2 separate regions of the Homo sapiens genome follow, and region 1 is reported to be linked to region 2. The links are microRNA targets in miRTarBase. Many come from high-throughput screens and were not tested one by one. Region 2 holds a microRNA gene; the other region holds the end of a gene's coding sequence.
Evidence for each region. Region 2 holds the annotated microRNA hsa-miR-4655-5p (CACCGGGGAUGGCAGAGGGUCG, at 2,212-2,233, opposite strand). A microRNA usually pairs through its seed, bases 2 to 8, with sites in the 3' UTR of a target mRNA and lowers its output. Matches are read on the target gene's strand: a 7mer-m8 pairs with bases 2 to 8, a 7mer-A1 pairs with bases 2 to 7 and ends in A, and an 8mer does both.

Region 1 (3,389 bases), not on the chromosome of region 2:
TAGCCCAGCAGGCCAGGGTGGCTGGCGCAGAGTGGCTGGAGAGCTGGAGGCCATGGGGCTTTGGAGGCCAAGGGAAGGTGGGGCCTCCTGGCAGTTCTGAGCAGAGCAAGGATGGACACTGCATGTGGGGAGACCTGCAAGGAGGCTCGGCCAGGGTGGGGCCTGGTGCTCTGGGATGGTCCTTCTCTTAGGCCCTGAGGGGTGACCTCGGGGCCATTCCCAGGATGGGCCTTCCTCACTGGTACCCCACCCCTCTCCCGCCAGGCATGGCCGCCTTTGCCACCGCCCACCTCCTCTACGTCTGGGCCTTCGGCTTCTCTCCCCTGCAGCCCGGCCTGCTGCTGCTCATCATCCTGGCCCCTGGCCCCTACCTCAGCCTTGTGCTCCAGCACCTCGAGCCGGATATGGTCCTGCCGGTGGCAGCCTATGGGCTGATCCTGATGGCCATGCTGTGGCGCGGCCTGGCCCAGGGCGGGAGTGCCGGCTGGGGCGCGCTGCTCTTCACGCTCTCTGATGGCGTGCTGGCCTGGGACACCTTCGCCCAGCCCCTGCCCCATGCCCACCTGGTGATCATGACCACCTACTATGCTGCCCAGCTCCTCATCACACTGTCAGCCCTCAGGAGCCCGGTGCCCAAGACTGACTGACTAGGGAGCTTGAAGGGCCGGTGTTCAGGCCCTCTCCTCCTGCAAGGACCTGGGCCTCCCAGCCCAGCCCAGCCTGAGAAATACCCTCAGCAGCGAAGCTTCCTGACGCCTGTCTGCAGGCGCCGCTGCCGCCGTCGCTTCTGGCTGAAGACGTTTGAGGACGATTTGCGGAATTCCAAGTCCACTACTGGGTTCCAGCTGCCTTCCCCCGGTTCTGACTCCAGATCCCTGGCTCCTCAGCCAGGCCCACATGGAGCCCTCCCAGCCACCAGCCTGCCTCCATGTTCACTGTCGGCCCCACAGCCTGCCCGCCCCCTGCTGCTGCTCTGAATCCGTTTTCCCTGTGGGTGTGGAACCGTAGATGTTGCTGTTACCGTAGGAGAGGCCTCGGGGAGGGTCATGATTGTGATAAACCATCGCGGTTAATGACAGCAGAAGGTTCTTTGTCGCTCCCCATGGACCAGGCCTGGTGCCCAGTGGGACCCTCCATGGCCCTCTGGTGGGGGGATTCGGGGGGATAAAGTGAGGATTGTGCAGAACTGAGCCAAGAGGACTGTTTGGTCTTTGTGTTAGTTTCCTGAGGCTGCTGTCACAAATTACCCCAAGCCAGATGCTTTGAAACAAGATGAATGGACTCTCCTGCAGTTCTGGAGACCCAAAGTCCAAAATCCGGGTGTTTTCCGGCCCATGGTCCCTCTTGAGGCTCCAGGGAAGAATCCGTCCTTGCCCTCTCGGCTTCTGGAGGCTCCCGGGAATCCCTGGCTTCCATCGGCCTGTGGCTGTGTCTCTCCGTCTTCATGTGACTGTCTTCAACTGGCAGCCTCCCTCTGTGTCCGCATCCTTCTAGGGACACAGGTCATTGGATTTAGGGCCCACCCTAAACCCAGGGTGATTCTATCTCAAGATCCTTAAGTATGTCTGCAAAGCCCCTATTTCCAAGTAGTGTCACCTGCAGAGGTATCTGGGGTTAGGACTTGGACATATCTTTCTAGGGGATACAACCCGCTGCAGTCACATGCAGTATCGGGAGAAGGGTGGGAGGCTTGAGGATGAGGGGTCTTGGAGGAGGGAGGGCGGCAAGGGGGTAGGAATCAAATGGGAAGGAGGAACCCAGCTGTGCTCCTTGTCAAGGCTGTGTGACCTCGGCAAGCTGCTATCCCTCAGGTCCTCAGATTCTGCATCTGAAGACTTGACAGGGTCCAAGCTGCTCTCCAAGACCCTATTTGACTTCTGCATCCATGATGTGCTTTCAGTGACTCATAGCAGAGGGGCGACTTCTCCATCCATGGTTAGCATTTAGAGACTCTTACAGCAGAGAGGCGACCTCTCTATCCATGACCTGCATTTAGGGACTCTTAGAGCAGAGGTGACTTCTCCATCCATGACCTGCATTTAGGGACTCTTACGACAGAGAGGGGACTTCTCCATCCATGGCCAGCATTTAGGGACTCTTACAGCAGAGAGGTGACTTCTCCATCCATGACCTGCATTTAGGGACTCAGATGTGAGAGTACAGAGGTGGGAAGGGAAGGTGGGGAGCCTGGAGGACGGGGACCAGGAAGGAAAGTGAGGACAGGAATCCACAGTTGGAGTGAGGAGAAGTGGAAGCTGAGGGATTTCCTTGAGGAAGGGTCAGGCATGAGGAGGATCTGAAGGATTGGACTCAGGTTCGAAACCTCCACTTCCTCCTCATCTCCTACCCTCTCCACTCAGACCTGGCGAAAGGTGGGGAAAGAGGAAATTGCGCAGTGAAGTGTAGCAGGAGGGACGGGGGTCTGGGTGTGCAGATTCCAGGGGCACGTGGGGCCTGCAGACATGAGGGGTTCCTGGAGGTGAGGGAGGAGGGGCTGGAACCTGGACTCCTGGGTCTGAGGGAGGAGGGGCTGGGGCCCTGGACTTCTGAGTCTGAGGGAGGAGGGACTGGGGCCTGGACCCCTGAGTCTGAGGGAGGAGCTGGGGGCCTGGACTCCTGAGTCTGAGGGAGGAGGGGCTGGGCCTGGACTCCTGAGTCTGAGGGAGGAGGGGCTGGGCCTGGACTCCTGAGTCTGAGGGAGGAGGGGCTGGGGGTCTGGACTCCTGGGTCTGAGGGAGGAGGGGCTGGGGGTCTGGACTCCTGAGTCTGAGGGAGGAGGGGCTGGGGACCTGGACTTCTGGGTCTGGGGGAGGAGGGGCTGGGGGCCTGGGTCTGAGGGAGGAGGGGCTGGGGGCCTGGACTCCTGCGTCTGAGGGAGGAGGGGCTGGGGTCTGGACTCCTGAGTCTGAGGGAGGAGGGCCTGGGGGCCCGAACTCCTGGGTCTGGGAGAGGAGGGGCTGGACTCCTGAGTCTGTGGGAGGAGGGGCTGGGGGCCTGGACTCTTGAGTCTGAGGGAGGAGGGGCTGGGCCCATAATCCCTGGTGTTTGGGGAACATTCTGGCTTTTGGTCCCTGGGCTCTGTGGGGTCGGCAGTCCAGAGCGACGGGACGCTGCTCTCCTGTCGGCATCCAGCAGCCCCAGCGTCGTGTCCCTCCTCCCTGATTCTGGTCCCCCGACGACCTTTCATCTGACTTCTCAGAGGTCTGCTTTCTCATGATCTGATTCGTGTTTCTCTAAAGCGGGACTCTCGGAGGTGCTGCGCACATCCCTCTCAGGCTCCTTCCAGCCCTGCCGGGACCCAGACCTGGGGCAAGGGGCAAAACGCCGGCTCCATCTTCCCTCCCAAGCCGGGGTGGCTGGTGGGGATGAGGCGGGGTGGGACTCAGCAG
Region 2 (3,389 bases):
CCCTCCGGCGTCACCATCCGCTGCAAATTGCCTTGTTTTTCGTCTTTGGCAGGGCTGAAAATTTGATCATGAAAGGGAATTTTCTTTTTTTTTCTTAATTAGTACTTGGTAATATCACCAAGCTGTGAGTTTATGGCTTTGTAGATCTTGTGTGTTTGACACTAACTACTCACAAAGGCTTTTAAAGCTGCATTTCAACTCTGCAACTACCATGCCGGTAATTAAGCCAGAGGAAGCGGCGACAGATTTCACTTTTCACAGACACCCTTCCCACCTGTGCTCCCGCTCCGTGTGGCCGCAGCCCCCGTGGCCCTGTGGAAACCCAGCAGCTCCCTGCGGCTCCGGCCCTGGAGGCCTGAGGTGGCCTTGCCTCCAGGAGCCCGGCCTCAGCCGTCACAGCCGGGCTTGGCCCTGCACTTAGGATCCAAAGGGCAACTCTTGGCAGCTGGAAAGGTTCTCCCAGTCCACAGGCCGCCAGAATCCCTTCCGGCGCATGCCTGCCTGAGCTGCCACAATGCCGCGTGCTCACTGGCCCCCCAGGCCTGTCCCAGGCGAGCTGAGTAACTGCAGCCACCTGAGCCCCGGCGAGGGACAGACAGCTATGCTTCTTCAGGTCCCCGAGGGAGGCCTTCGTCCTTCGTCCATCGCTGGGCCCATCATTTACTGAGTAGCTACTGCCTGCAGCTGCAGAGGCCTCCACCTCCCACTCCTCACCTGGGCCCCTGCAAGGCAGCCGAGGCCCAGGGCACGGTCAGGCTGTGTCCTGGAGGGGAGGGTGGGCAGGGCCTCTGAGTGCTGCACAGCTGCGTCCCACATGTCAGCCCCTCGCCCAGCTGGCCCTCCCTGTGGCTCAGCACACGGGCTGCCTTGCGGCTGGTTCCCGGATGGGGAGGGTACACTGCCTGGAGCTCAGGGGCTGGCTGGGGTGAGTCCGAGGCCGGGCTCCAGCACAGCCTTCAAGTGAGGCCCACAGTGGGGCTGCTGGTACTGAAATGGCATCCTGGCTTCCCAGTAGCACATTCCTTGAGTGTGTCAGTCCCTCTGGGGACCATCTGGAGGACGGGGGCTAGAGAGCAGCCCTGGTCATTCTCCACCAAGACCACACATGAGGCCCCGATGGCACAGTGCCGGGATCCTGTGTAATTAGGGTCTGGGTGCCCTCGTTGCCCTACTCCTCTGAAAGCGAGCCAGGTTCACCTTGAACCCTGCAGAATGATGCTCTTTCTGGCGTCTTTCTCTGTCTTCCTGGGCCTTACAGGTTCTTCGGCAGTAAATCAACTAAACGGTAACACTCTTCCCTCCATCTTCCACATTCAGGCAAAGCTGGCCCCGGGGAGCTCCTGCGCAGACGTCCCTCACGGCCAGGGAGGCCGCAATGAAGGCTGAACCTGGGGAAGGGGCCCAGGTGCGGTGTAGACCTCCTCTGTCATCCAGCCCCTCCTGAGGGGGCTTGATGGGCGTCCACAAGTGGGCAGCTTTTCCGCGCTTCCCCGTGTCTGACTGTGCTGAGGGCCTCCTGAAGTGCAATTGGTTAGTCACGGTTTAGTGTTCTTTACTGCAATGCTATTTTAAGATGCAATTAAAACGTCTCATTGCCAAAGTGCGTGCTTCCTCCTGGGGGCCTCCTTCCTAACACGAAGGAGTCAGAAACCAAGGCCGGGAGGAGACCTGAGCTGAAGACTCACTTCTGGAGTGGGCACACTTTGTCCCAGCTCCGTCTTCCTGGAGCACCCAGGAGAGCCCGCTGCAAGAAGAAGCCCCACGGCAGGCCACGTGGAGGCGAATTCACCTCCTACCCAGACAGCGTGGGCAATGCTGAAACGAGCGTGAGCTCCGAATGATTTTAGTGAGGTTCAAACCTCCCCTCGGCTGTCAGCCTCTGAATCTCTTCCACTTCAGCCACGGCCACTCCATGGCTAGGGGCGGGGAGGGGACACTCAGAAGTTTGGTTTCTTCTGAGGGGCCTGAGCACACACTCAGGATGTGAGTGGGGCCGGGAAGGGCAGCAAGTGGAGCCTATGCAGGAACACTTGTGCAAGGCTGCACGGTTTCACTACCACCAGAAGGCAACTAAAAATCCCCACAACTCCAGGTGTGTCCTGGCTGGTGTCACGGAGCCTCACACACGGCTGAACCGCTTAACTCACATCCAGCCACAGAACGGCCTGCCAGGGGCTCCCCGGGGACCTGACGAGGGTCAACACTTTCCCACGACCCTCTGCCATCCCCGGTGTGCCCTTGGGGAGAAGTGTGGTGGTCCCACAGGCCCCCCTGCCAAAACCTCATGCTTGAGGAAGCACTCCCAGTGGACAGGGAGCCCCAGCTGCTGCTGCTGGACAGGTAGGGGCCCAGGGGCACAAGGGGCCACCTCCAGGCTGGGGGGAGACCTGGGGAGAGACGCCGGTTGGGTGCTCCACTGCAGACCCTGACACGCGAGGTGTGGGACATGGACGGCATTCGAGGTCCCACCCCGCTGAAGGAGCTTGACACGGAGCCCTGCAGGGGGCAGAGGCGGCCCAGGGAGAGGCGCAGGCAGGGGACGCAGCTTGGGACGGGCCTACAGCTGGCCCAGGAAGGTGCTCCCCGAGGCTGCCACGTGCCCAGCACCTCCCCTTGGTGACCATCCCCCCAAAGCTGGGGGGAGTCCAGGGCCCAGCACTCCTTTCTCCAGGCTTCCCCCAGGACATCCTGCTGTGGCTTGGCACAGGCCGGGCACTGACAGAGGGGACCCGTCTGGTTGCATCCGATCCTTCGATGCTCCTGCAGGGGTGGAGGGGCGCGTGGGTACAGTCAGCAGGGCTGTGGCCGTACCGTGCAAGCCACTCCAGCACCTGAGCGTGTCCTCCTCTGCGAGTGGGACAGGAAAGCCTGCCTCGCACAGCTGCTGCCAGGACGGAGACAGTATGCTGCTGGTCAGTGAGTGGGCACAGCCAGGGTCACTGTCCCGCCATCAGAAGGAGGACAGGGGTGCGGGGAGGAGGGGCCTGAGCCCGAGGCTCCTGGACTCACAGTGGGCACAGGGTCTGTGCAGCCAAGGCCCCACCTGGCGGGCGCGGGAGGCAGGCCCTGACTGCAGCGGGGAGAGCAGAGCGAAGGGGTCTCCTCTTCCCTCCTAGCAATGCTGTGTGGCTGATACGCTGACCAGCTACTTGACACCTGGCACAGCCTGCTGGGCTCAGGGTGGGGAGACGCATGATTCCTATCTTGTCTGTAGCTTTCCTGAGGCTGACGCAGGGCCCAGCGCTCCGGAGGGAGACTTGATCACACACAGGCAGTGCACAGAATGTCAATGTGGGAGAGGCCGGCGGCTCTGACCTTGGTGTGTTACAGCCCTTGCCACCTCCCTCCGCTGCCCTGCATGGGGACTCAAACCACAAACAGCAGCTCGG

Region 1: miRTarBase lists TMEM86B as a target of hsa-miR-4655-5p. Seed matches in the 3' UTR shown: 7mer-m8 at 854-860.

The regions. Positions count from the first base shown.
Region 1 is chr19:55,224,439-55,227,827 of GRCh38, reverse strand. TMEM86B (transmembrane protein 86B) reads left to right here. Exons shown (of 3, transcript NM_173804.5): 3 at 265-1,190. The coding sequence ends at 647. Among named protein-coding and RNA genes, the nearest start is that of TMEM86B, 2.6 kb to the left of the region's middle.
Region 2 is chr7:1,842,012-1,845,400 of GRCh38, forward strand. MIR4655 (microRNA 4655) reads right to left here and starts at 2,242; the gene lies at 2,169-2,242. All of the region lies in intron 18 of MAD1L1 (mitotic arrest deficient 1 like 1), which reads right to left. All of the region lies in intron 1 of LOC100127955 (a long non-coding RNA gene), which reads left to right.